Linked DNA regions of Homo sapiens. The protein of the gene in region 1 interacts with the protein of each later gene in a pairwise test. Each region holds a gene or a part of one and is shown on either strand. Other genes may lie near its edges.

Evidence for each region.
Region 2: the proteins of MORN3 (region 1) and TASOR2 interact in binary tests that used the Homo sapiens proteins (3 or more experiments, as listed by UniProt).
Region 3: the proteins of MORN3 (region 1) and HOXB2 interact in binary tests that used the Homo sapiens proteins (3 or more experiments, as listed by UniProt).
Region 4: the proteins of MORN3 (region 1) and CIMIP2B interact in binary tests that used the Homo sapiens proteins (3 or more experiments, as listed by UniProt).

Annotation. Positions count from the first base shown.
Region 1 is NC_000012.12:121,652,655-121,659,737, reverse strand, and holds part of MORN3 (MORN repeat-containing protein 3), read left to right. Parts: intron 1-389; coding exon 390-547; intron 548-5,304; coding exon 5,305-5,464; intron 5,465-6,478; coding exon 6,479-6,663; intron 6,664-6,929; coding exon 6,930-7,004; 3' UTR 7,005-7,010; intron 7,011-7,083. UniProt on the Homo sapiens protein: Assembles a suppression complex (suppresome) by tethering SIRT1 and MDM2 to regulate composite modifications of p53/TP53.
Region 2 is NC_000010.11:5,736,776-5,743,858, reverse strand, and holds part of TASOR2 (protein TASOR 2), read right to left. Parts: intron 4,242-7,083; coding exon 3,362-4,241; intron 1,763-3,361; coding exon 1,333-1,762; intron 1-1,332.
Region 3 is NC_000017.11:48,542,072-48,549,599, reverse strand, and holds HOXB2 (homeobox protein Hox-B2), read left to right. Parts: upstream 1-4,490; 5' UTR 4,491-4,688; coding exon 4,689-5,079; exon of another isoform or gene 5,080-5,642; coding exon of another isoform or gene 5,643-5,706; intron 5,707-5,852; coding exon 5,853-6,532; 3' UTR 6,533-6,945; downstream 6,946-7,528. UniProt on the Homo sapiens protein: Sequence-specific transcription factor which is part of a developmental regulatory system that provides cells with specific positional identities on the anterior-posterior axis.
Region 4 is NC_000009.12:35,561,320-35,568,751, reverse strand, and holds CIMIP2B (ciliary microtubule inner protein 2B), read left to right. Parts: upstream 1-4,873; 5' UTR 4,874-4,923; coding exon 4,924-4,985; intron 4,986-5,193; exon of another isoform or gene 5,194-5,315; coding exon of another isoform or gene 5,316-5,362; coding exon 5,363-5,586; intron 5,587-5,671; coding exon 5,672-5,877; coding exon of another isoform or gene 5,878-5,909; intron 5,910-6,051; coding exon 6,052-6,103; intron 6,104-6,177; coding exon 6,178-6,372; intron 6,373-6,656; coding exon 6,657-6,745; coding exon of another isoform or gene 6,746-6,884; 3' UTR 6,885-6,921; downstream 6,922-7,432. Other genes in the region: AP-4 complex accessory subunit RUSC2, read right to left, coding at 7,370-7,432. UniProt on the Homo sapiens protein: Microtubule inner protein (MIP) part of the dynein-decorated doublet microtubules (DMTs) in cilia axoneme, which is required for motile cilia beating.

The DNA.
Region 1 (7,083 bases):
GCCAACATGGAACCCCATCTTTACTAAAACACAAAATTAGCTAAGTGTGTTGGCGCACACCTGTAGTCCTAGCTACTCTGGAGGCTGAGGCAGGAGTATCTCCTGAACCCGGGAGGCAGAGGTTGCAGTGAGCTGAGATCGCGCCACTGCACTCCAGCCTGGGCGACAGAGTGAGACACTGCCTCAAAAAAAAAAAAGAAAGAAAGAAAGAAAGAAAGAAATGGAACTTTCCTGGCCTTCTCCTGGGTACTTGGTGTCTAGGATGATGCGCAGAGCCTGTCCCAGCTCTCTAGATTCGTCTAGTTGGGGGCCCCTGAGGCTCAGGCAGGCACACCACCCCCACCCCCCGGCGGCCATGTCTGCAGCATTGCCCATCTGTGTGTCACCAGGGAAAGGAACACAGGTCTGGAAGAAGAAAGGAGCCATCTATGAGGGGGACTGGAAGTTTGGGAAGCGAGACGGCTACGGCACCCTCAGCCTTCCTGACCAACAGACAGGAAAGTGCAGGAGAGTCTACTCAGGCTGGTGGAAAGGTGATAAGAAATCGGTGAGCAGGCCTGCCAGCCGGGGTGTGTGTGTGTGTGTGTGTGTGTGTGTGTGCGCGCGTGTGTGTTTAGGGGAAGCCGAGAGAGGCCTGGGAGAAAAGAGAGGGGAGGTCTACAGGGAGGAGGACAGGGTTGTGCTGCTCGTGGGAGAAGGAAGGGGTGGGGGAATTGCAAAGTTTCTCAGAACAAAACCCAGGAAACAGGAAGCAACAGAAGGCCAGGGAGGAGCCCACGAAACCCTGCGGTTGCGAGGAGCCAGCCAGGCTTGTGGGGACGAAGTCGCCTCCACCCTTTTCCCCCTCGTTTCCTGGCTTTCTTTTCCCCAGGTATCACTTTCTGAGAATCCCCTTTCTGCTGGGCCTGAATAAAAGGGAGGTAGGAAAAGTGGGAGCAAGAGAGCAGGGGACAGGAGAGGAGGGTCCCGGGGGGCCGAAGCCAGCCAGAGGCGCGTGCTCAGCCCGGAAACACCCAAGCTGGGCACAGGTTCCCTCCATCTACTCCCACAAGTGTGGAGGAATCCTCACCATCAGTCCCAGAGACACTAATAATAAACAGTATTGCAACTGAGCAACTGCTACTGTGAGCCTGAAACACATATTTAAAACTTTTTTTTTTTTTTTTTTTTTTGAGAGGGAGTCTCATCCTGCCGCCCAGGCTGGAGTGCAGTGGCGCCATCTTGGCTCACTGCGAGCTCCGCCTCCCGGGTTCACGCCATTCTCCTGCCTCAGCTTCCCAGGTTGCTGGGACTACAGGCGCCCGCCACCACGCCCGGCTAATTTTTTGTATTTTCAGTAAAGACGGGGTTTCACCGTGTTAGCCAGGATGGTCTCCATCCCCTGACCTCGTGATCCGCCCGCCTCGGCCTTCCAAAGTGCTGGGATTACAGGCGTGAGCCACCGCGCCCGGCCTGAAACACATTTAATATTCAGTTAACTCTCACAGCAACAGCTCATCATCATCATCATCTTCATGCCCATTTTATTGATAAGCAAACAAGCTCGAAGAGATGAGGTGTCTTGTAACTGCCCAAGGGGTTCACCTTGCCGGTGCCTGGCCTTGAGTTGTATTATTACTCAAATCAGTCTCCCCGAACATTCCAGCAGCAGAGTTTTTAAGGATAACTTGGTGGGTGGGGGAAAGACAGTGAACCAGGAGTGCTGATTGGTCAGAGATAAAATCATAGGGAGTCAAAGCTGTCTTCTTGCTCCCCAGACAGAGCCGATTCATCAAGACGGGAATTGCAATAGAGAAAGAGTAATTAACACAGAACTGGCTGTGTGGGAGACCTGAGTTTTATTATTATTATTATTAATTTATTTATTTTTTGAGATGGAGTTTCGCTCTTGTCGCCACGCTGGAGTGCAATGGTGTGATCTCGGCTCACCGCAACCTCCGCCTCCTGGGTTCAAGCGATTCTCCTGCCTCAGTCTCCCGAGTAGCTGGGATTACAGGCATGTGGTACCACACACTGCTAATTTTGTATTTTTAGTAGAGACAGAGTTTCTCCATATTGGCCAGGCTGGTCTCGAACTCCCGACCTCAGGTGATCCGCCAGCCTGGGCCTCCCAAAGTGCTAAGATTACGGGCATGAGCCACCGCGCCTGGCCCTGGGTTGTATTATTACTCAAATCAGTCTCCCGGAACATTCTGGCTGCAGAGTTTTTAAGGATAACTTGGTGGGTGGGGGAAAGAGTAAGCCAGGCGTGCTGATTGGTCAGAGATAAAATCACAGGGAGTCAAAGCTGTCTTCTTGCCCTGAGTCAGTTCCTAGGTGGGGAGCCACAAGATCACATAAATCAGTTTATTGATTTGGGTAGTGCCAGCTGATCCATCAAGTGCAAGGTCTGCAAAATATCTTAAGCATTGATCTTAGGAGCAGTTTAGTGAGGATCAGAATCTTGTAGCTTCCAGCTGCATGACTCCTAAACCATAATTTATAATCTTGTAGCTAATGTTAATCCTACAAAGGCAATCTAGTCCCCAGGCAAGAAGGAGGTCTTCGGGAAAGGGCTGTTACTGTCTTTGTTTAAACTATAAACTATAAGTTTCTCCCAAAGTTAGTTCAGCTTAAGCCCAGGAATGGACATGGACAGCTTAGAGGTTAGAAGCAAGATGGAGTCAGTTAAATTAAATCTCTTTCACTGTCTCAGTCATAATTTTGCAAAGGCAGTTTCAGTCTTGCCTGGAGTCACACAGCTAGCAAGTGGTAGAGCCCAGGGTTTCATGTTCTCTGCTCCCAAATTGTTTATTGGCAAGTAGGAAGAGAAAGCCCTGAATAACCAATTTACGTAGAATATGGTATTAGGAGGGATGTTTTCACAGGGTGCCCAGAGGAAGGTCATCAAGCCCAGCCTAGAGAATTCAGGACAGAAGGCTAAGCACAATGGCTCACGCCTGTAATCCCAGCAATTTGGGAGGCAGACAGGGGTGTATCACTTGAGGTCAGGAGTTCGAGACTAGCCTGGCCAACATGGTGAAACCCCCGTCTCTACTAAATAAAAAACACAAAAAAAATTAGCCGGGCATAGTGGTGTGTACCTGTAGTCCCAGCTAGGGAGACGGAGACATTAGAATCGCTTGAAGCCAGGAGGCAGAGGTGGCAGTGAACCGAGATCACGCCACTGCACTTCAGCCTGGGCAACAGAGTGAGACTCCATCTCAAAATAAATAAATAAATAAATAAAACTATATAATAATAATAATTAGCTAGATGTTGTGGTGCACATCTGTAGTCCCAACTTTTCAAAAGGCTGAGGCAGGAGGATTGCTTGATCTCAGGAGGCTGAGGTTATAGTGAGCTATGGTGGTGCCACTACACTCCAGCCTGGACAACAGAGCAAGACTTGTCTCAAAAAGAGGGAATTCAGGGCAGGCTTCCTGTAGGAGGTGACACTAAAAGATGCTAGGAGTTAGCCAGGAAGAAAAAAAAGGGAGAAAGATGGGAGGCAAAAAAATAGCAAAGGGAACGAGATGTAAAACAGCAGAGTGTGTCTGCCCTGGGACAGGAGTGAGGAGAAGAGTTGCGGGGGCCCTCAGGGATATGTGGGAAATCAGGATTTTGAGGAGTAGACTTGGCTTCTCAACCCAACCTCCTCGGGTGTGATCTGCAAACAGACCTTGTTTCCCTGTGGTTGGACACTAAGTGTGGTGTTTTTTGTTTTTTGAGACGGAGTCTTTCTCTGTTGCCCAGGCTGGAGTACAGTGGCGCGATCTTGGCTCACTGCAAGCTCCGCCTCCTGGTTCACGGCCTTCTCCTGCCTCAGCCTCCCGAGTAGCTGGGACTACGGGCACCCACCACCACACCCAGCTAATTTTTTTGTATTTTTAGTAGAGACGGGTTTTCACCATGTTAGCCAGGATGGTCTCGATCTCCTGACCTTGTGATCCGCCTGCCTTGGCCTCCCAAAGTGCTGGGATTACAAGCGTGAGCCACAGCGCCCAGCCTAAGTGTGGTGTTTTTTGTTTGTTTGTTTGTTTGTTTTTTGAGACAGTCTTGCTCTGTTGCCCAGGTGGGAGTGCAATGGCACGATCTGGGCTCACTGCAACCTCCGACTCCTGGGTTCAAGCAATTCTTCTGCCTCAGCCTCCCAAGTAGCTAGTATTACAGGTGCCCACCACCACACTCAGCTAATTTTTTATATTTTTAATAGAGACAGGGTTTTGCCACGTTGGTCAGGCTGGTCTAAAACTCCTGACCTCAGGTGATCCATCTGCCTCGGCCTCCCAAAGTGCTGGGATTATAGGCGTAAGCCACCACGCCAGGCTAAGTATGGTGTTTATGTTCATTTTTCTGGGTCAAAATAAGAGTGGGAGGGGGGCGAGCATGATCAGATGGGCGATTTTTTTTTTTTTTGAGATAGCGTCTCACCCTGTCACCTAGGCTACCGTGCATTCTCAGCTCACTGCAACCTCCATCTCCCAGGTTCAAGTGATTCTCCTGCCTCAGCCTCCCCAGTAACTGGGATCACAGGCGCCGCCATCACGCCCAGCTAATTTTTTGTATTTTTGGTAGAGATGGGGTTTCACCATGTTGGCCAGGCTGGTCTCAAACTCCTGACCTCAAGTGATCCACCCACCTCAGCCTCCTAAAGTGAGCCGGTGAGCCACAGCGCCCAGCCTAGATGGGCGATTTAAAGAGTCCTCCGGCGCTGTAGGGGCTGCATGGCGCATGGTGTGGTGGGGATGAGAGAGGAGAGGGTGGGTCAGTAAGGAGGGAGTTTAATGACTGGCTGCATGGAGGCGCCAGCAGAGGGACAGAGAGAAACAGAGCATGGGGAGATCCTTCAAGACATTATCGGTGGGCACTATGGCTCACACCTGTAATCCCAGCACTTTGGGAGGCTGAGGCGGGCGGATCACTTGAAGTCAGGAGTTCAAGACCAGCCTGGCCAACATGGTGAAACCCTGTCTCTCCTAAAAATACAAAAATTAGCAGGGCGTGGTGATGCGTGTTTGTAATCCCAGCTTCTCGGGAGGCTGAGGCAGGAGAATCACTTGAACCCGGGGGACGGAGGTTACAGTGAGCCGAGATCACATCACTGCACTCCAGCCTGGGTGACAGAGTGGATCTCTGTCTAAAAACAAACAAACAAACAAAAAAGACAGGATACTCCGCTAAGACACGACCCTCCGCTTGGACGTAGGGCTGAGGAAGAAGGAAGAAGCTGGGGTGTGTGGCTCTAGGGGTGCCTGGGAAGACGGTGGGCTTTCCTGGTGGTGTTGGGGGGCGCCCTGAGTAGTAGCATCTTCGTACTTTCAGGGTTATGGGATCCAGTTTTTCGGACCCAAGGAGTATTATGAGGGTGACTGGTGTGGCAGCCAGCGCAGCGGGTGGGGCCGCATGTATTACAGCAACGGCGACATCTACGAGGGACAGTGGGAGAACGACAAGCCCAACGGGGAGGGCATGCTGCGCCTGAGTGAGTGCCCCACCCCCGCCGGCCCCGCCCACCCGACCACGCCCCCGGCAGCGAGCTGGCCACGCCCATTTGGTCCCACAGAGACAGGCCACACCCCACACTCTTGTCCCACACTGACCCTTGTGTCAATGTGGGACAAGAGAGGAAGAGCACCCTATCTCTCCCCTCAGTCACAAAAGGTCACATATATATGATGCTATTTATATGAAATTTTTAGGACACGCACCTCCACAGAGACAGAAAGTAGACTAATGGTTGCCTAGGACTATGGGGGTGGTGACATTAGTGGGTGTGGGGAATGGCTGCTTAATGGGCACAGGGTTTCCTTTTCGGGTGATTAAAACGTTTTGAAACTAGATAGAGGTAATGGTTGCACAGCATTGTGAATGTACTAAATGCCACTGAACTATACACTTCAAAATGGCCAACTTATGTTATATGAACTTATATCTCAATTTTTAAAAAAAAAGCCAGGCGCAGTGGCTCATGCCTGTAATCCCAGCACTTTGGGAGGCAGAGGCGGGCGGATCATGAGGTCAGGAGTTTGAGATCAGCCTGGCCAACGTGGAGAAACCCTGTCTCTACTAAAAATACAAAAAGTAGCTGCATGTGGTGGTATACACCTGTAATCCCAGCTACTCAGGAGGCTGAGGCAGGAGAATCACTTGAACTCGGGAGGCGGAGGTTGTCACTCAGGCTGGAGTGCTGTGGGGCAATCTCAGCTCACTGCAGCCTCAACTTCTTGAGCTCAAGCCATCCTCCCACCTCAGCCTCCAGAGTAGCTGGGACTATAGGTGCACACCACTATGCCCAGCTAATTAAAAAAATTTTTTTTTTTGCAGAGATGTGGTCTCACTATGTTGCTCAGGCTGGTCTTGATCTCCTGGGCTTATGAGCCTCCCATCTTGGCCTCCCAATGTGTTAGGATTTGCACTGAGCTCTGGAAGAGCGACCCCTGGGGGTCTAGCTTAGTTTGGTGTACCCTGCACCACACCTCCCTGTCCTTTCCCCCAGAGAACGGGAACCGCTACGAGGGCTGCTGGGAGAGAGGCATGAAGAACGGGGCGGGGCGTTTCTTCCATCTGGACCACGGCCAGCTGTTTGAAGGCTTCTGGGTGGACAATATGGCCAAATGCGGGACGATGATCGACTTTGGCCGTGACGAGGCCCCTGAGCCCACTCAGTTCCCCATTCCTGAGGTGGGCAGCCCTCACCAGGGCCCTGTGGCCACACCCAGACAGAGACAGAAGCCAGCATCCCCAGCCATGCCCAGGCCAGATCTGCCAGGCCCAGCCAAGCCCAGACAGGGAACAGACAAGGTTTTGTTTTCAGTCAGGGCATCCCTAGCAAGGGAGGTGGCTCCTGATGAGGCTGGCAGCACCCCACACGGCAGGCAGCGCCAGTCAAGGCTGGCAGCCTGGGTCCTCCATGCTCTCCAAACCAACTTCTTGGTATTTCCCTCCAGGTCAAAATCCTAGACCCTGATGGTGTGCTGGCGGAGGCCTTGGCCATGTTCAGGAAGACAGAGGAAGGAGATTGATGCCAGGTGAGGGGTGGGCACACCTGCCAAGTTCTGATGTGGCTGAGGCTGCTCCAGGGCCCAGAACAATGCACAGATC
Region 2 (7,083 bases), on another chromosome or scaffold:
ACAAAAGCCTACGTAAGTACATACTAAGGAGATTGTTAGGAATCACTGATTTGAACAGTCAGGCTTGCCAAAATCATTGCTAAAATTAGTACTGATGATAGTTAATTACATATTACCACGACAAATGGTATTTTATAAGAAACTAGCATGTATATATGTATTAATTTAAATCTCCCTGACTAGACTATATTTTCTTATTCTAAGGTGGTGATTCTTAACTGGATTTTATGTAATTCTTTGAGAATAGGATGGAACTGCTGAACCCCATCTTTAGGGGAAAAAAAAAGCACATACATAGTTAACATTTAGGTTTTCTAGACTGGAATCTTGGCTTGACAATTTTCTATGTGACTTTAGGCAATTTCTTTACTTCTCTATGCTTTAGTCTCGTCATCTATGTAATGGGGAGATTAATAGTCTTTAACTTATTTGAGAATGAACTGAGTTAATATGAGTGAAGGGCTTAGAACTCTTACTTTCTGGCACACAGTGACCCAGAAATCTTTAATTCTCATGATGATGACAATCACTTGAAGATATTCACGGGTTCTATGAGGCTCACCCAAGGACCTCCAAGTCCCCGGTGACCCCGGGTATAGGAACACTGTCTACTCTTTCTTAAGACAGGAATCAGAGATGCTGCCCAAACCCAAGCAATATTATTCTAGAATAAATTTGGGCGGAAAACTTTAAAAGGTAGGTAATTTTGTCAATTCATTTGCTTAGAATTTTGTTAACAACTTTTAGATTTGCTCCAGGTAAAATTTGGATTATCTGGCCTGGTTGAATGTCAGTTGAGAACAAGGAACAAAACAAAGTATATTTTCCATATTTACAAATAGTTATTTGCAATGGGTCTTCTTTCACAGGTCTGGCATTTTACTATTCCAGCATCTGTCTTCAAAAATAATTTTAATACAATTAATTTTAGTTTACTTTAAGGTTTATCAAAGTATATCTAAGATTTATTATTGCTATATTTGATCCTTAAACAATATTCTACATAAGACTTGATAGGTATTAAGTCACCTCTTTTAAAAATTAGGCAAAGAAGCAATTTGCCCCAAATTATGCTGGGCTCCCAGATCATGTGGACCCTGTGACATTTTTCTACTCTGGTTTTTTTCAATCGGGATGGCAGGTAAGCTCTACCTGCAGACAATTCAAGGACACTTCATGAAAACTAGGTTTTTGGTGTAATAGTTCTTTACATACCTTGAGAATTCACTGTCCTAAAATTTAAAAATGCCTTGTTTTGAATGTGATTTTACATATAAACATTTTTTTCTTCAAAAATAATGCCAACATTTAACGGTATTCAGCTTTACATACCTCATTATTGTAAGAACAGATGAAATTCTGGTCTTCTTGGGTGTCTGGATCACACTCTCTTGCAAAAGTTTTTTTCTGTTCATTTTGTACACAGAGTTCCAAGCCTTGGGTAAGTGGTGTTTTAATGAAAGGAAGCAAGCAGTTAGGATCACGGAAGGATACTTCAGCAGCATGAGCCCTGGAAATTTCGTTAGTCTCCAACAGAGAGTCTGCAGAACATTTTTCCAAACCAAGGGACTCCTCAATTTCACGGAGCTCACAAGATTCTAACGTGCTATTTATAGACACATATTTTGCTGGGTTGCTGTGTTCTACAACCTTTCGGGAAGATCGTATGATTTTGTTCTGATTGCTGTAAAACAGAGCTACCCACATATGAAGTAAAAGCTTCACTTCTTCCACATTATCAGGCAAATCAGTATTCCAGGGCCTAAGAGTTTACAGAAAGAACACATGAAAATCATTGAAAATGGTTATTTTAGTTGATTACCTTATCATAAGCAAGTGCCTCCAATATTCCTTAGTTTTTGTTTTTATTTTTAAAATTTACAGATATGAAACATGAATGAGTAAATATGTAGTTGACTTAACAAATAATTATCCATCTAACCCACTCATTTTACAGAGACGGGAACTGAGAATCAGAACATGTAATTGCCTTCTTTCAAATCACAAAACCTGTATGGCAGAACCATGATCTGAACATGGGTAGCACGTGTCTTTTACACCATACAAATTCACTCTGGACACAGAATACTTATTATAGAAATGGTTTCGCCAATACCCAAATCCTCATCACCATGCTTTTGCTAAGTCTGGCTGATTCATTTATTTTCCATTTTTGTGTCTCTCTTCTAATAATTGAGAAAGTCTGAAGATAAAATATCTCTCTGGGCAATTCAACAGAACTATACTATTTTCAGACTACAGTTCTGCAAAATATCCTGAAACAGTAAGGGGAAATAGAAAACATTTCTGGCCACCTGGCAGGCAAAAGGATGGCAGATCGCTGGAGTACCATAAGTCAGGGGGGCTGCAGAGTTGGGCAATAGCTAAACAGGAAGTTCTAAGGAAATGACCCTTATGAGTATATATGAACAGGTGTATAGAAGAAAGCCTGACAGCTGTAGAGTCCATATAGTCAGATGTGAAACAGTTCATTAATAGGGAGCTGAATGTCAATTCATATAGCTAATGAATGCTTGCTAACAGTGATGGTTACCATTTATTACTACTACTGGCCAGTCACTGTGCATCTCAATATATGTAACCTCAGGACACAGCTACATAATTAAATGTTGGCCACAGACTGTCATCCACCATTGATATCACCTGAAAATTTGTTAGAAATGCAGAATGTCAGGCCTCTCCCAAGGAGAATGCATCAAAATCTGCAGTTCAGTGAAATCTCTAGATGAGCAGCACACACAATTAAGAAGCACTGTCCAGAAGCAAGAAACTTGCCCAGGATCACAGGAGGTAAGAAAGGGAAAGAACCCGGGTTCAAATCTAGGTTAGTCTACACTCCAAAGCCTGTGCTGTTCACCACTCTGTTATTACTGACTTGATTCCTTCTTAAGGGAGATCTATAGAACAATCTTATGTGAAACTGCTTACTCCTATCAATCTGACCAATTTACCAAGCTACAGTGATTTTTAAAATGTTTCTTCTGGAATTCAGTCTGTAAAGCATTATTTCTAAATCTCACACTATTTTACATTAAGATCTCATCTAAAAATTGAAATTCAAAAGCCACAAGGGCTTACGAGGGAGCATTGCAAAATGGAAAGCTATTCATTAGGCTAAAATTATCTTTAAAAACTTCTCCACATGAGCACAGGGGGAAAACCAGCCTGTTACTCTTAATTGCCAGGAAACATGTTTGCTTGATGTTATTATCAAATTACTGGTTTTAAACACAACACTTCTTTCTCCTTCTCCAGAGTTTGGCATAAGTTTCCCCATCTCACTACATTCATCTCAACAGAAAAGTTTCATCCATTTTCACTAAGTTTCACTCATACTCACCCATGTAATGCTCTTACTACAGTTTTCTCCAGTGGGTTGTTGGTATATTTGCTGTCTAAACTGAATGCATATTCTGTTTCACATTTGAAAGTGATCTTAACGGAGTCATCACAGCTAAGCACTATACGAGAGCAAGAAGATTTTTTCACACGGGCAGACGGTGGTCGATCCTTGGGCTTCACCACGGGGTCGTCAGGAGGCTTTTGCTGAAGCAAAAGGCCGGGCTGATGCCGAAATGGCATGACTTTCCCCACTGGGGTTGCTGCTTCAGGGCTTTTTGTCCCATTCCTGGGAAACAGAGGGCTTAGTATCTCTCTCTCCTGTAGATGTTTCTTTGAATGTTCTGTAAGGAGCAGGGCATATGAATGTTCCACAGAAACAGAAGAGCTTTGGCTTGCATCTGAAGATTCTAGCATTTCCTCAGTAAGTGCTGACTGGGCTTTAGCAGGGGCCTGACTACAAGGAACCAAGCTTTCTTCATCTTGGCTAACTGTTAAGTCTGATCCAGAATTACTCTTCCTATCAGAAGATGGGTTAGGTAGTAATTCACCTTTTTGAGTTTTAACTCCTCTATGATATTCATGGTCAGATGTACCTCGCAAAGAATTTTCTTTAGAGAGCAAAACATCATTTTGTGGCAATTCAGAGGAACAGTGAAGATTTCTAGCCTCAGATACTGGTGTGGAAGAAGTAGCAGAGCTTAATGCTAGATCGGCTAACATATTTAGGGCCTGGGAGTCATAGTTGACGATGGAGTTTTCAGGAAGATCATTGTGAGCCGCTGTGGTATTTTCTGGTTGAACACTATTTATGCTAATCCCATCTTCTTGACAACCTCTTGAAATTTCTGATTGAAGCTTTGAAGCAGTTTCTCCTTTGACTTCAGTATAAAAGAAAAAAAAAAGAGAGATGTTTGCTTGTCATAGAATTAACTCTCTGCCATATTACTATGATGGTTAATTCAACATGTCTGAGAAAAACTTATGTAACATATATTGCATATTAAAATTTTCTATTAGATTAAGGTCTCTTCCAACCCTCAGATAAAACTTATGTTATACATATTGCATATTAAAATTTTCTATTGGATTAAGGTCTCTTTCAACCCTCAGATTATAATGTGTTAAACCAGAGGGACAAGTCTTAAGGAATGTGTACATTAATTTAGAAAGAAATTATCCTTCAAAAACATATGAACTGATCTACACAGAAGACATACAGCTCAGCTCAAAAAATGTACAAACAAAAAAACCCAAAAAAGATGAGAGTCCTGCCCTTGGGAGCTTACAATCTAATAAGGACAGGAATGTAGAAGTTTCAAGTGTGTATGAGTTTGCTAACATACTTTCTCAGGAACCATTTCCCTGAACAAGCGATTTATTAGAGAAACTACCTAAGTTCAAATGATTTTAACTATATTGATCTTTAATTACATGATGTGATAGAAATAAAAAATTAGAAAAGTCCTAAGAGTATTCAGAATCATCAATTAATTCCATTACCTTTTAAAATTTTACTTTCATTACCAAAAACATTGACCTTTTACATTATCCAAGAAAGAGCAAATCTACTGACAATGTTCCCTTTTACAGATAATCAAATCTATCCATATGCCCTTAATCAGAACATTTACATTTGCCAGTGGTTTCCCTTGGTATTTTCAACGTATTCATTATTCCTTCCTAAATGCTGTTATTATGAAGGATAAACTTCACAACTCTGCTAGGCAATGATTCCCTGCTGCAGGTAGACAGATGACCAGAAAAGCCAACTATGTTCCTCTTTATCATAGTAGCAGGTCCAAAATGAATTAACAACCTGCCAGCCAAGGCCAATGAGTAACACATTTAAAGAGAAGACAGCTCCAGCCTATGATGTCATCAATTAGAACGACAAGGGCATGCACATACATGGGGAAAGGGTTAAACTGATCAACGACTGCCCAGTTTTTATTTAAAACAGCAAACTCAAAGGGGACAGGTGGATGAAAAGGACCCAAAGCAGATAATTGTCTTGTTAGTCCCACAGGTATACTGGAAACATAAAATTAATTTTGTGATCTGATGCTAATTTCATTCTTTGTTAATATTATGGCCTCCATCTACTTATCCCTTACACAAAATATTACTTACCAGTAAGGCCTAATATAAAAGATACTGTATTAAAATAAAGAAAAATGGTAGTTTAACATATTATAGTCTCACATAAATCACCCAGTTATTAACGTGTTACAGGTTCCCAATTAAAAAAACACCACCCATAATTTCTATTTAAGACATACATAAGACAATGCCAAAGGAACTACATTAAAAAAAAGTTCAGTGAATAAAAAGGACAGAAAATCATGTTTCATTAACAAAAGGACTGTCTGACTTCAAAATTATCATTTGATTCTAATTTAAATCAGTAATTTGCAAACTGAGGTCAATGTGGCTATGTTTCATCTGCCTTCTTAAACGTTGATATTTTAAGTATAAGAAGTAAAATGATTAACATAGGTGCTTAAGAAAAAAATTCAGAGATTTAAATGTAGTCATTCAAAAATGTTAACTTGGAATGTGGCTGCACAATACCTACAGACATTTGCAATACAAATCAGCCTGTATTTGAACACACATTTTGAAACTTTAAATTTTCTGGGCTCACTTTTCTGCCAGTATGCAATTATATACCTCCTCGCATTAATCAATTTGTCAATAAACATCTGAAGCCAATTCAGTACAAAGAATGCAAATGACACTGCTAGGAACACAAGATGTTACCTATTCTCATGTTTACAAATTGGAAAGATTGGACCAAGACATGTCAGATGAATTGAAAACAGTATGAATTAAATTATAGAATGTTCTCAAATATCCCAAAGAAGTGAGAGATTAGTTACAGTCACAACATGAGAAAACGCCTCCCTGTGGGGATAAATCTAGCTGCAGGCCCCTGAAGGGCAGAGGTTGCCTGGGGGAGGCACAGAGGGCCGCAGGGGAAGGAGCACGGTGGCAACAGCAGAGGCACAACGCAGAGAGGGGAGGTACAGCCACACCATAAACTCCCGAGAGGGACAAGCAGAAGAGCTCAAATCTGGTATGGAAGCCAAAACTGCAGCATATGGGTTTTTGAATGACATGATGAGCTTTTAAAAAAATCTTCAGTCATAAAACAATCTGAAAAAACTTAAAGAATCTCAGGGTATGCTTAAGTTGAAAAAAAAAACAAAAAAACTAAAAAAAACAAACCTGGCTGGGCGTGGTGGCTCACACCTGTAATCCCAGCACTTTGGGAGGCCGAGGCAGGCAGAGCATGAGGTCAAGAGGTCAAGAAGTTGAGACTATCCTGGCCAAAATGGTTAAACCCCATCTCTACTAAAAATACAAAAATTAGCCAGGCGTGGTGGCATGCACCTGTAGTCCTAGCTACTCGGGAGACTGAGGCAGGAAAACTGCTTGAACCTGGGAGGCAGAGGTTGCAGTGAGCCGAGATCGTGCTACTGCACTCCAGCCTGGTGACAGAGTGAGATTCTATCTCAAAACAAAACAAAACAAAACAACAATCCAATTTCTTTCTCTGAATTCTCACTCTCTGTGAGATAGTAACATCTAGTAATAGATGAGGGAGAAAGTAGAATCAGGAAAACCAGACAGAAAACTCATAGAAAGATAGGAGAGAATGAAGTCTCTCCGTTAAACAAAACAAAAAAAATACACACACACCACAAAAAAATCAATACC
Region 3 (7,528 bases), on another chromosome or scaffold:
ACTGAAGGTTTGCCCATTCTGCTGCCTCCATCTCAGCTCCAGCTCCATCCCCCTCTCCACAGAAAGCAGTTGGTGACACGAGGTTCTATACTTTTCTTCTGTTGCTCTCTTGACTTAACGTGAAAACAGGGTATATTTGAACAAACTGTCCCAGGCAGGGGCTGGGCAGGGCCTGTGTGCCTTGCTCAGCCTCCTGACAGGACACTTTTGTTGCACTTAGAATTTACATTTTAATGGATGTAAAAACAACTGTGAGAGATGTCTGGGCCTGCAGAAGTCCAGCATTGCTCAAAAAAGCGTGTGTTCTAGTGAACATTTTCATATATATTTATTGGTTATAGCCTGTTAAAATATTTTCTTTTTTGTATTATTTATCCCCCTACATTATGTATTTATATGAGGGAAAAAAAGGAAAAAATTGTACTTTTTTAGTATTTACCTGTTACAAAGGACATTGTGTTTCCTGTCATGTAAAACCAGCTATTTTAGTTACTATTGTACTCTAGAAAAGAGCTGTAGATTTATGTTAAACTCGTACTTACGAACAATTGTAATTAGTTCTAAAAGGCATGAACTCAGCTCCTAATCGTCACTGTATAGTCCTGAATTTGTAGAACTAGAGTTAATTCCCTCTTGGAACTTTCTTTGTTCTTCAGTAGTTACTTTTTTCCTTACCTAAAAGGGTTGTCTGTCAAACAATTCTTGAATAAACTTTCTGTTATCAATTTTATCTTGTCCTGGTGGTCCAATTTAGATAGCAGAGCAAGGCTGCTGACTGCCAAATTTCCCCCAAGGGAAGAAGGACAAGGACAAGGACACTGAAGACCCTTCCCTGGCCTTTTTGTCCACTGCCCAGGTTCCTGTCTCCCCCTTGATATGTCTTAAGTTTAAATACCATTTTCTCACTCATAAGAGCCTGTAACATTTTGCCAACTTCTTCAGCTGTGGTTTAAGTAGCAAGTTGGGAGGTAACGGGGGACTCTTGGATGCTCTCTGTAGGTTTTTCTGTTTGGCCTGTATGCCTCTAGGTTTTTCATTCATTGACCTTTCGTCTGTTAGCTCCTTTGGCCACAGCGTCCATGCACCCCCCACCCCCCACCCCTTCCCACCACCACCAAGAAAATCTGGCCGATTACGGTTTCTTCCACGAAACCTAAACTTCACAATCCTCTTCCGGAGCCACAAAGAAGGTGTCACGTGACCCGAAGCCCAACCACCATTGGGTCTAAAATGAAAACAAAGAAAAATGATTAATCTAAAAAAAAAAAAAAAACAAAACTGAGGCCTAGACTTCTCAGGTCAAACTTTAAAACTAAGTAAAATTAAATCACTAAATAAAACTCGAGGCGGAGGGAGGGGAAGCACGTTCGATTTCCCCTGCCAGAGAAAGGGGAGAGGAGGGTGGGAGAAGCTGTTGGATCCAAGCGTAAATAAAACGGTCCCCAGGCTAATGTGCGGCTCTGTTTCCATCATCCTTGGGAAAACTTCATTTCTTAGTTGTGGTTCCATAAAAGTTTTATCACATTGGAGTGAAAATAGAGAAGGTCTGTCAAAGATGAAATGTCACCGCCGAGTCGCTGGAGCCGATAAGAGCGAGAAGACAGGGCGGCTGAAATATGGAGCTAATTCGTTGAAAGAGAAGCGATGGCTGCTTGCTGAAGAGCTGCATAATTCTAATTGTAAGCGATGTGCCCGCATTGCTTAATTAGGAGCATATATTTGGTGGTAGTGATGTTGGGGGAGTGAGAATCGTTCCAGGCCCTGCCTTAAAGAGAGGGCTGATTTTCATTTTTATGTTGCATCCTGGCAGTCCAAGGTTAGTAATTATAGTCTTTATGCAACAATAAATAACAATAAAAAAGCAACCTGAACTCTACGCCCTCCCCCTTCCCCACCACCAAGTAGGATTTTAACTGGACTCATCCAAGCAGCAAGCAATTTAGCATTGGGTCAGGCTATAATTTAAAGGCATAAGAGCGTGCAAAGTTTGATTGGGATCAAATAACGCTCAAGGGTTTTTCTTTCTTTCTCTTTCTCTCTTCTTCCTTGAATAACATTTTCTGAATGATATAACTAGATGAAGCACCATGTTTGGCTCTGGGGCTGGGTTGGGTTGTTATTTATCTAGCAGGAAAGAGGCCAAGAAAGAGAATTTAGCTTAAGTTTGAAAAACAGAGCTTTGGCTCGAAGCTGGAATTGCAAACAAGAAAAATAAGAACCAACTTGGCTTGGTGTTCCCTATCCTTCTCTTTGGAAGATTCCAGGCGCTCAGCTAAAGCAGCCAAAGACGTGGGTAAAATATCCGTGCTGTTAAATTCACAGCAGGACAGGGGGGCGGGGGAGGGATGTCTCTGAAAAGGAGGGTTCTCTGGGCCCCTTTTAACACCCAAGTTTTCCGCTGTTTGCTAATCTGGCCATAAAATCTGTCAGTGAGGGTTAGAGAGAGCTGTATTTCCTGCAGGGACAGTCTGCCCGAGTTGCCTGAGATAAGCTCTGGATCCTTCAGCCAGCTACAGAAGCTGTTGCTAAACTTTCAGAGGTGTTCAAGGGGGTGGCCAGAGGGAGAACCCACTCTCAGGCCTCCCTGCATGACTTCCAGACAGCTACTATTTGGATTATTCTATGCCCACCCCCATCCACACCTCTAAATGGCAAAAATTGTTTTCTTTGGAGCCTAGTTGCACACTACTGTCGCTGGCCACTTTGCCCAGGTCAGAGCAGCTCTCTCTGTTCTGAGCCCTCCAGAGCATGCCTCCTCGGTCCCTGCAGCCCCCACCTCCAACTCCCCTTTCTCCATCCTCCTCTCCCCCACCCTCATGCTTCTACTCAGACTTCTCTGTCCTTCTTTTTAAGTACTCACGCAGATGTTACACTGACAGAAAGTTTCTAGTTCCAGCTCCGGGCTCAGTTGCCATTTCTCTGCTAACCAGCCTTCTCCTCCTGGCTGGGCAGCAGAGAGAGAGGAGGGGGAGGGGAGGCCAAAGCCATGGGAGTTCTCCAGGCAAACTTTCCACCCAACTTAGCGCTTTCCCTCTGTCCCCATTTCCCATCTGTTTCCCAGCTCTCCCAGAATCACCCTTCTCTTTTGCACCCCCACCCCCACCCCCAGGCCTTTTTAAGGGATGTGAAATTTTGGCTGTTCGCTCTGCTTTCCCAAAGAGCCAAATTCTTTGATGCAATCGGAGGGAGCTGTCAGGGGGCTAAGATTGATCGCCTCATCTCCTCTCCATCCGTCTGACCCACTTATTTAAAAATCTTCCCCCAGATCGACTTTTCATTTTCTGCTTTGAGGCCTAGTTTCCCACCAATTGCTTGGGGCTCAGAGTCTTGTGCCCTCTCCCCATAGTAAATTACAACACTCTAAACTTCAGACTATCTTGGTCTCCTCAAAATAAAATAAATTTTAAAAACATTTTCCCCCAGCAGCCAGAAATGGAATATCATCTCAGTGGTCATTATTTCCACCCCTACCATCTTCAGGGAATTCTTCCTTGTCAGGGATTCTTTTTTTTTTTTTTTTCTTTTTTCTTTTTTAACTAGCACAATGGCAAAAATGGGAGGGAAAGTCTCTTTGTCCTAGGGGAAAATCTCCCCACCACACTCATGCACACACATAACGCTGATCTGAACTTTGAGAGTGCTCTAAGTTAAACCAATGGCTACCTCAGTTCTTGTTCATGTCCCTGGATATGGATACAGATACAAGCTTGAGGCTTGAGTGGGTACATGCACATCTTAGACTCTGCCTGTTTTTGGGGGATGTCACAGAGAAGCATGGAAGCCTGAAAGTGAGGAAAGCAGGGGTACATAAGGGGCAGAGGCAGTGCTGCAAACACTGGGCAGAGAAGAGAACCCAGACCATACAGCGATGGAGGCCAGAGGCCCAAAAATGCCCCTTATGCTCCATCTCACTCCTATGTGTCTGCCTGGGAGTTCCTGTCCATTTCCCAAGATTTAACTGTTGTTTTTGGAGGGTAACAGGGATAGTGGTGTGATGATTGTAAATCTCTTTCTTATTTTCACCTTAATACTGACCTTTTTCAAAGAGTGGAAGCCTCTTTCGACTCCCTCTTCCTCCAACGCGGAGATCCTCACTCATCTTTTCCTGGGGAAGGGGAGAAGGGAAGGGGATGCTGCTGGCCACGTAAAGAAGGCCTTAATTTACTCTATTAAAATACTTGGAAAAGAGGAAGGTTTCTCCCTTAGAGTCTCTTCTTTTCCAGGCTTCTGAAACCTTCTAACCTTCGAAGGGGATGAGGAAAAGGTTCCTCTAGCTTTTCTGGAGAAACGGAGGCATTGGGGAGAGAGCATGTGAGGCACTGGTGTAGGAATGGGGGCTCATGGTGTCCTGGTCGTGGTCCTCTGGTGTTTTTGAATCAATTAAACCAAATAATGCTCTCTGTTTTCCACCAGGCCCAGACGAGCGATTGGCGGAGGCCGGTCCCGTGACCACGAATTCCCTGTAATTTCGCTGGAGTCCTGGGTTTAATAGAGAGAGTCCCCATACGCTTGTATTTATCAGCAATATACAATTATAAAGGCCCAAAATTAAAAAAAAGAGAGACCGAAATCTCCCCCTCCCAAAATCGCTCCATTACATAAATCGGGGGGGGTGCAGGAGGGGGGTCCCTTCCGATCCTCCCTCCTGACGCCCCCCCCAGCAGCCCCCTCCCCCACCATTGAAAGCCATGAATTTTGAATTTGAGAGGGAGATTGGGTTTATAAACAGCCAGCCGTCGCTCGCCGAGTGTCTGACTTCCTTCCCCGCTGTCTTGGAGACATTTCAAACTTCATCAATCAAGGAGTCGACATTAATTCCTCCTCCTCCTCCTTTCGAGCAAACCTTCCCCAGCCTCCAGCCCGGCGCCTCCACCCTTCAGAGACCCAGGAGCCAAAAGCGAGCCGAAGATGGGCCTGCTCTGCCGCCGCCACCGCCGCCGCCACTCCCCGCTGCCCCCCCGGCCCCCGAGTTCCCTTGGATGAAAGAGAAGAAATCCGCCAAGAAACCCAGCCAATCCGCCACGTCTCCTTCTCCGGCCGCCTCCGCCGTTCCGGCCTCCGGGGTCGGATCGCCTGCAGGTCGGTAAGCGTGGTGGGGGTGGGGTGAGGGGCAGCTAGAAGAGGGGGAGAAAAAGCAGTGGAAGGAGGTTTAAAAAAAATGGTGGCGAGCCTGTTGGGGTTCCTTACCCCCTCCATTCCTGGGATGGGGAAGTAGAATATCCCACTGGGGTTCAGGCCTGGCCGCTAACAGCGTCTTTTTTTTTTTCTGTCTCTCTCTCTCTTTCTCTCCCTATGGCTGATTTTGGAAGCTGGTTGGGGAAACGCCTTTTTTTCTGCTAGAAGAAAATGATTTGATTGAGGTTTTCACCCGTATCTGTGTAGGGGAATGAGTATGTTGTTGCTGGGATAGACCCTAGAAGCAGAAAAGATTCGGTCCTTTCTGCCCCAACTCTAGGAGAAGAGGAAGAATTCAGAGCTAGGGAGGAAGAGGGGTGAAGAACAATCTTTCTGACCCTCGCTCCGGTTGAGTTGGAAAGTTCCGAATTGAGGGGTCCACTGGGAGGGCTTGGGAGGGGGATCTGAGGTTCCGGCGCCGAAGGGAGCCGCTCTCCGCCCCCTGCGTGGCCCGTGGGCGGCTCTGAATGCTTTGCCCTGACCCGGGCCGGGGCTGTAGACTAGAGAGGGAGAGAAGAAAACCCAAAAGCAGTAAAGCGAGCGGCTTTGGGGTGGGGGCGGGGGTGGGGTGGCGAGGAAGGGGAGAGGTGATACTGGTTTTGGAGGATGGGGTAGTCCGAACTGAGGTTGGGCTGAGTACACGGCCCGCTATGACGCCGAGCCTGTTTTCCCTGCAGATGGCCTGGGACTGCCGGAGGCTGGTGGCGGCGGGGCGCGCAGGCTGCGCACGGCTTACACCAACACGCAGCTGCTGGAACTGGAGAAGGAATTCCACTTTAATAAGTACCTGTGCCGGCCACGCCGCGTCGAGATCGCGGCCTTGCTGGACCTCACCGAAAGGCAGGTCAAAGTCTGGTTTCAGAACCGGCGCATGAAGCACAAGCGGCAGACGCAGCACCGAGAGCCGCCGGATGGGGAGCCTGCCTGCCCGGGAGCCCTGGAGGACATCTGCGACCCTGCCGAGGAACCCGCGGCCAGCCCGGGCGGCCCCTCCGCCTCGCGGGCGGCGTGGGAAGCCTGCTGTCACCCGCCGGAGGTGGTGCCGGGGGCCTTAAGCGCGGACCCCCGGCCTTTAGCCGTTCGCTTAGAGGGCGCAGGCGCGTCGAGTCCCGGCTGCGCGCTGCGCGGGGCCGGCGGGCTGGAGCCCGGGCCATTGCCAGAAGACGTCTTCTCGGGGCGCCAGGATTCACCTTTCCTTCCCGACCTCAACTTCTTCGCGGCCGACTCCTGTCTCCAGCTATCCGGAGGCCTCTCCCCTAGCCTACAGGGTTCTCTCGACAGCCCGGTCCCTTTTTCCGAGGAAGAGCTGGATTTTTTCACCAGTACGCTCTGTGCCATCGACCTGCAGTTTCCCTAACCTGTTTCCTCCTCCCGGTCCTTTCGACCCCCGCGCTCCTTGGCCGTCTACTGGAAAAATCGAGCCTCTCCCACCCTCAGTCGCATAGACTTATGTGTTTTGCTAAAATTCAGGTATTACTGAATTAGCGTTTAATCCACTCCCTTTCTTCTTCTTCTAAAATATTGGGCACTCGGTTATCTTTTAAAATTCACACAGAAAAATTCCGTTTGGTAGACTCCTTCCAATGAAATCTCAGGAATAATTAAACTCTAGGGGGACTTTCTTAAAAATAACTAGAGGGACCTATTTTCCTCTTTTTTATGTTTTAGACTGTAGATTATTTATTAAAATTCTTTAATAATAGGAAAAGGGGAAAGTATTTATTGTACATTATTTTCATAGATTAAATAAATGTCTTTATAATACCAAAACGAGTGTTTGTGTTGGGACCTAAACTCTTTCCCCGCGGCCCCAAGGCCGGTCCTCACCCCTCCAGGACCTGTGCGAAGTTGATTAGGTTCAGCGGCCCATATGGCAGCAAAGCCTCCAGGGCCGGCGAAGTCCGGGTGGTACAAAGGTGACCCGATTGATGGCCGCTTCGCCCACGGCTCCGGCAAAAGTCGGGAGTTTGCAGGAAGCTGGGTCACCTCCCCGCCCCTCAGCAGAGGGTCTTTGGTCCTGAGCGGGTGGTTCTGGGGCCTCTGCTTGGAAATAGAGATGGGCAGGTCGAGGGAGAGAGTGTACAGCGAACAGAGGAGGGTGAAAGGAGAGGAAGCCTGTGGACAGTCTTCAGGGTCGTGGCGGGGGCAGAAGTTTACTGGAATTGGGAACAATCCAAGGGCTTCCTAGGCTTTTGCTTCTTATGACCGAAGCCGGTGTAGGACCTTTTTCCGAACTCAAGAAGCCTAGGGACGCGAGGCCTGGGGCTTGAGCCGGGCCTCTTTGGGAGCTGTAGGTGGCTCTCCAAGGAGTGGAGTGGGGTCGGGGATTTTCTCGGGAAGCAGGGTCCCGCAC
Region 4 (7,432 bases), on another chromosome or scaffold:
CCTCGGCTTCCCAAAGTGCTGGGATTACAGGTGTGAGCCACCACACCCAGCAGGATCAAGTCTATATTCTTAATCATGAGGCCAGTATGTGTTTGAGGCTAAAAGTTGCCTCTGAATTCATCTTTGATTGAATTCTCATTTATTTATAAATAATTGTGTATAACTGGAATTTTTTCTTTGCCCCAAGGGTTAAGGTGTTTTTGTTTTTTTTTTAATTTTAATTTTTATTTCTTTAAGAGACAGGGTCTCACTGTGTTGCCTGGGCTGGAGTGCAGTGGCTATTCACAGATGTGATCATAGCGCCGCCCTACAGCTTCAAATTTCTGGGCTCAAGCCATCCTCCCGCCTCAGCTTCCCAAGCAGCTGGGATTACAGGAATGCACCACCACGCCCAGCTCAAGGGAGTATTTTTAAATGTCTAAGTGTTAGGTTGGTTGTTTGTTTAGCCTATTTTAAAATTTTAAAATTGTGTTTGTGTGAGGAAATGTGGTTTATTGTGCTTCTTGGAATTTTTGAGATTTTTCTTCATGGCCTATTATAAGATCAGTTGTTTTTGTTTAGATCTTCATTGTGGTATTTATTTTATTCTGCCTTTCTCTGTACCTCTGTCTCTTCTTTAAAGTGGTTCGATCACTGAGGTCAGGCATTGTCTGTATTGATCTATAAGGCAACTGCCTAGTAGAAATATTTAATAAGTAGGCTGAATAAATGAATATTGATCCTTGTGGATTTGAGGAGTGTTATATACATAAAAAATCCAGGCCAGGTGCGGTGGCTCACGCCTGTAATTCCAGCACTTTGGGAGGCTGAGGAGGGTGGATCGCTTTAACCCAGGAGTTCAAGACCAGCTTGGACATGGTGAAACCCTATCTCTATAAAAAAAAAAAAATACAAAAATTAGCCGGGTGTGGTGGCATGCACCTGTAGTCCCAGCTACTCTGGAGGCTGAGGTGGGAGGATCACTTGAGCCCAGGAAGCGAAGGTTGTAGTGAGCTGAGATTATGCCACTGCACTCCAGCTTAGGTGACAGAGTGAGACCCTATCTCAAAAAAAGAAAAAAACCAAAAAGGTAGAAAAAGGTAGAATAGAGACCAGGCCATTTCCTTTCCTTCGATCCCTCCAAATACCATGATTCCTTGTCATTTCTACTTGGATTCCCTCCACCACACCTCTTTGGACCTCAAAAGCATAGATTTCAATTGTCATAATCTTTGGTTTGGCACATTCTCATCATTAGTTCATACTTTGTTATAATGTATGCATTATAAGCATTTTTTTTTTTTTGATACAGAGTCATGCTCTGTCACCCAGGCTGGAGTGCAGTGGCATGATCTCGGCTCACTGCAACCTCTGCCTCCTGGTTCAAGTGATTCTTCTGCCTCAGCCTCCCAAGTAGCTGGGATTACAGGTGTGTGCCACCACACCTGGCTAATTTTTGTATGTTTAGTAGAGATGGGGTTTTGCCATATTGGCCAGGCTGGTCTCGAATTCCTGACCTCAAGTAATCTGCCCACCTTGGCCTCCCCAGGTGTTGGGATTACAGGCATGAGACACTGCACCTGGCCCATTATAAGCATTTTTGAAAACATCATCCCAAACAAAAACTGAAACTTTGACAATAACATACATCTAACTATGTGGTTCCCCCTTTCCCACCCCTTTTGTTTCTCACCATCTGAGGTGAGCATTTGAAACCCATTTTTATCATTCCCTTGCTTTCCTTTTTATGCAGTTTTATGCATCTGCATGTATTTTTCAAACTAAAAAAGGTTTTGTGTTGCATGTAATCTTTTGGAGTTTATTCAATTCTTGTTTCAATTTTGGTGGACTGTTGATTTCAGGAATTTTTTCAAAGGTCCTGTGATTTTCTTTTATTCATCCTTGCAGAGGGGATTTATGCTTGCCTAGGGTTGACATACAATCAAATGATTGATTTGGGATCTGTATGAAATTTTATAGCAGTTCCTGGTCAGAATCAAAGGCAGAACAGAAGGCTATAGGCTGCCATTGTGGGGACCCAGCAGGCTGTGTGGACTGAGTGGGGCGCTGTCTCCAGTTAAACATTTTCTCTCCACTGCCACATCCAACACTGGCCACTGGGTGTGGCAGCTCCCATCAGAGCAAGTTGTGGTCATGTTTCTGTGATGTCTGTCCCTGGAAGGAGGCACAGAGGCAGCAAGCATTCCTGTGGTGCCTCAGCTGGCCCCGTCACTCCTTTCTCAGATTAGAACACCCTTCAGGGATCTAGAAATATTCTTTATTCAGATGGAAACAATCATAGTAACAGGCCATTCTACCAATTGGATAGAGCTGTTTCTTCATAAGCCATAAACCTAAGACTAATCCTAATCTGTTTCCTAACTTGTGTTTTAACGCATACCCGGATTCTAACTGCCATGGTCTTTTCTGCAGAATGTGTTCTAGTCCCTACATCCTAATTTATACCCCAACTTCCATTCAAACCTTTCCCTTTTTCAATTTCATGAACCTTTCCCCTGAACCTCTAACATCTGTGACTGCTCCCAGCTCCTTTCCTTCCTCCCATTCCTGCCAAATGCTAGCCGTGAATTGCTGTTTAGTTAGCACTTACCGTAAGCTAGACGCTGGGGTCATTGCTCATTGTGTATCATCTCAGCTAGCTGATATCCTACTCTATGAGATGGTAACATTAGTTTTTCCATTTTACAGATGAGAAAACTGAGGCTCAATGAGATGAATTTGGACAAAGTCTATATCTCTGGTGAAGCTAGGATTTGATCTAGTGGTGTTTTTTTGTTTTGTTTTGTTTTTGAGACGGAGTCTCACTCTGTTGCCCAAGCTGGAGTGCAATGTGCGATCTCAGCTCACTGCAAGCTCCACCTCCTGGGTTCATGTGATTCTCCTGCCTCAACCTCCTGAGTAGCTGGGACTACAGGTGCCCACCACCACGCTTGGCTAATTTTTGTATTTTTAGTAGAGACAGGATTTCACTATGTTGGCCAGGCTGGTCTCGAACTCATGACCTTGTGATCCTCCTGCCTCGGCCTCCCAAAGTGCTGGGATTAAGGGTGTGAGCCACCGTGCCTGGCTGTTTTGTTTTTTAAAGTTATGATGCCTTTGGCTGTAAGTGAAAGAAAACTTAAAGTGGCCTTAATAATGAAATTTACTATTTGACATAAAAAGGCTGATTAATTCCATGGCTCTACATTACCCTCAGGACCCTGGCCTTTCTCCTCTACCATCCATCCTTGATGTGTCCAGGACTTGTCTTCAGGTTAGCTTTCCACAAGGCTTCCACATGCCTGCCAGCATTCCAGCCTCACATCCCCCAAAAGTCTAGGGGCAGGAATGGACATCGTTTCGTCTTGCGCATCTCTGTCTCTCTCACTTGCTCTAATTTGATGTGAATCTTTTCTTTAAGAGCAAAGAAACTTTTCCCAGGACCCTCCCCTGCCCCAGCAGATTTCCCCTCATATTATCCAGAATGCTGGAAGCCCGTGCCTAAGCGGTCATGGGGAAGGAGCATGGGACCACGCTTAGACTAATCCAGCTCATTCCTCCAGGCTGGCTCTCCAAGCCTCCCTGATGCAGTTTCTGGCTCCTCGGAAGAAAGGAGATGGGGGTCAGGAATAGGTATAAGCTGTGATAGTGTCTGTCACAGAATCCCAAGTCTGGTTGTTAAGCTTGACACACTGCTGCTATTCTGGGCTTGCCCCTCGGCTCCCATCCTCACTCTAACATATTTCCTCAGCTGTGAGGTAAGTCCCCACAACTCTAAATGACACATTCTAAGGCTGTCCTTGGCAGAACAGTGAGGAACATGAAATGTGTGCCTTGGAGCCCAGTGCTCTTATGTAATTCCCCTGGGATGTCAGTGCCGTCCTTGGTCAGCGCAGGCATGGTCACTGGAGGTGGGGAGAAGAGCAGAGCTCTGCCTCAGAAACGTGGGCCCTGAGCCCTCAGCCTGGCCCTGACCCAGCCCCAGAACTTTTTGTTTTGTTTTGTTTTTTGAGGTGGGGTCTGGCTGTGTTGCCCAGTTTGGACTGAAACTCCCGGACCCAAGTGATCCTCCCACCTCAGCCTCCTCAGTACGTTGATGTGAGCGTGGCTGCACCCGGCCCAGAGTTGGGTTTTAAACATGTTTCCCCGTCCTCTGAGATCTCATCTTCCTGGTCTGTGCTTTTTCTTCTCTTAGAATCCGAATTTTTTATTTTATTTTATTTTTTTAACAAATTCTAACTTGCTCCCTAGTGTTACCGCCCACACCTACAACAACTTTATCCTGTTTCCTTCCCTCAACCCCCACAGCTTTTCTGGCTCCCATGGAGTGCACACTCGGCCACTGTGGCCGGAGCCTGGCAGAGCCTGGCTCATTTGTTGAATGGATGACTCTGATTATAGCAGGTATTCAGTAAGCCACTCTTGTTAAATTATTGAAAATAAACGATGTTACTCCCTAGAGGTGTCTAGGTTCCTTTTTTTCCCCCATCACCTGTCCTCTTTCACCTCCCCTCTGGGCCCTGGCTTCCCTCAAAGATCCTTTCTCCAGGTCCCCCATCTCCTTTGATGAAGACTCATGAGGAACACAGTGTCCACCTCTCAGGCAGGCGCTCAGGAAGGAAGTCGCTGAGACAGAGCTCAGTGGCCCGAATGGTTTCTGCTCCCTCACCTCCCACGTCCCACCTCCCACGTCCCACCTCAGGGCTTCCTTCGGTTCGGGCCCTGCCCCACGAGCAGGACCACCTTTGTCCTGGACAGACAGACCTGCTAGCCTCTGCTCTACAGTTCTGCCGGCCTTCGCCCTGGCTGTCCTCACACGAGTGCCCCCTCCCTTCTCTCCTCCCTTAGCCCCGCCTCCTTCCTCTAGCCCCACAGCCCTGGACACGGTACACACAGACCAGAGCCTTGGCTCAAAGGCAAACAAAAGGAAATGCCCGGCTCCCCATGGCTGTGGCCAGCACCTTCATACCAGGGCTCAACCCTCAGAACCCTCATTATATCCCAGGGTAAGACTCCCACTTAGCGCTCCCCGCTTGCTGCTGGGAGTAGGGGTATAGGGTGGAGGAATTAAGCTGCTTAGAGCATGGGGCCAAGCGGACAGGTTGGTTTGGGAGGCTGAGGTCTCTATGGTGGTGGATGGAAAAGGAGAAGCAAGGGACTAGTGAGACACCGGGTCTGCCCCAAAGCTTTGTGTTGTTCTCTCCATGGGAACAGGGTAACAGCAGAGGAAGGATCGAAAGCCCAGGCAGAGAACTTAGAAATGCCTGCTCCAAATATATACACTGCTGAGTCCAGAAAGATCAGGGCTTCAGAGGTCTCCGCTTCTGCCTCTGGGGATGGCGGGGCAGGGCGATTCTGGTGAGTGGGAGAGTCTGTGCTGCAGGTACACTGGACACTGCCCACTACTTCGGTTCAGCGTGGGCCAGACCTATGGGCAGGTGACTGGTCAGCTACTTCGAGGCCCTCCTGGCCTAGCCTGGCCCCCTGTCCACCGCACACTTCTGCCTCCCATTCGGCCTCCAAGATCTCCTGAGGTTCCCAGGGAGAGTCTACCTGTCAGGCGTGGGCAAGAAAGGCTCAGCTCCAGCATGATCCCTGGGTACACAGGTTTGTACGCAGGTATGCACAGGTGCCCCTCCCAGGAGCATGTGTTCCAAACACTAACGAGTCTTCCTTGTCCCTGCCTGCCCAGGTTTTGTACCCCGGGCACAGTTCATCTTTGCCAAGAACTGCAGCCAGGTCTGGGCCGAGGCTCTGAGTGACTTTACTCACTTGCATGAAAAGCAAGGGAGTGAAGAGCTACCAAAGGAGGCCAAGGGAAGAAAGGACACAGAGAAGGACCAGGTGCCAGAGCCGGAGGGGCAGCTGGAGGAGCCGACACTGGAGGTGGTGGAACAAGTGAGACCAAGAAGCTGGTGGGGAGTGCAGAGGTGTGGGAGTGGGGGTCTTACTGTGTGTCCGGGCAGTGGGGGCAGCATGAGTAGTGTGGCTGTGGGTTCAGGGGATGTGCACTTGATTGTCAGCTCCACCTCCTTGGGAGATTGTGTGACAGCACAGGGGCTTCTCTCACAGGCTTCTCCCTACTCCATGGATGACAGGGACCCTCGGAAGTTCTTCATGTCAGGTGAGAGCTGGGGGGTCAGGATCAGAGGCGTGGGGAGGCCCCAGGATGCCTTGGCTCAGTGTCCCCATCCTCAGGCTTCACTGGCTATGTGCCCTGCGCCCGCTTCCTCTTCGGCTCCAGCTTTCCTGTGCTCACCAACCAGGCACTGCAGGAATTTGGGCAGAAGCACTCACCAGGCAGTGCCCAGGACCCCAAACATCTCCCCCCACTTCCCAGAACATACCCTCAGAACCTGGGTCTTTTACCTAACTATGGGGGCTACGTGCCAGGTGAGAAGAGCCCCCGGGGAGGCTTTGGGGACTGGAATGTTTGTTTGTATGGGTATGGGGTGGGTTGGGTGGTTTGTGGGGGTTGAAACTAATAGATATGGGAGGGCTCAGATCATGTGGTTCAGCTTTATTATCAGGCAGAAAAGGAAACCGAGGTAGCTACCCACAGTGGGGAATTAGGGCCAGATTTTAGAGGGCTGTTTGGAGGTCTAGCCAACTGGCTGAGAATTAAATGGCTTTGCCATGCCACTTGCTACATGTGACAGACTCTCTTGGCCACACAGGGTATAAGTTCCAGTTTGGCCACACATTTGGCCATCTCACCCATGATGCTCTGGGCCTCAGCACCTTCCAGAAGCAGCTCTTGGCTTAGGCCACTGGACATCAAGTTCCCTTCCCTTTTCATCCTATCCCAGCCATCCTTTTGGAAGGGAGAGAGGTGGGTGGGAGGGTGGGAGGGTGGGGGAACACAAAGAGAAAATGGTTTGGAGGCTGAGCACCTTTTTTATTAATAGGTATAATAAATAAATAAATAAATACATAAACAGACGCCTGGGCTCCTCCTCCCTCTTCTGATGACCAGGCACTGGCCACAGCCTATTTACAGCTGGGGGGCTTAGGGATCTGGCCCCAATACTGTTACCCATCCTCATCTCCACCTGGCCTAGGGAACCCTGTAGATGGCTTTCTGGGCCACCCGCCTCCAGGGGGACTTGCTTGTCTTCACCCATGGAAGGGTTGGCCCAGACGGGCCAGGGGAATCCTGGCAGCCCAGTGCTGTGTCCCATCCCTCTCCTGGGTGGAGGTCTGGACAAGGTCACTGGGACAGTTAAGGGGGCGTAATTAATACTGAGCACAGGGAGCAGGTGCCAGCACAGGGATACGTGGCCCCAGCTCTCAGTCTACTCTGCAGCCAAGCCAATGGCTTGGGAAGGGCTCTCGGGCTCTGAGTCTGGGGGTTATGAGGGTCCCTGAGGCCACCAGCATGCACAGGGCCTCAGTTTTGGCTGCTTCCAGGGGTTGGACTTGGAGTTGGGGTCAATGTCACGTAGGCCAGGGG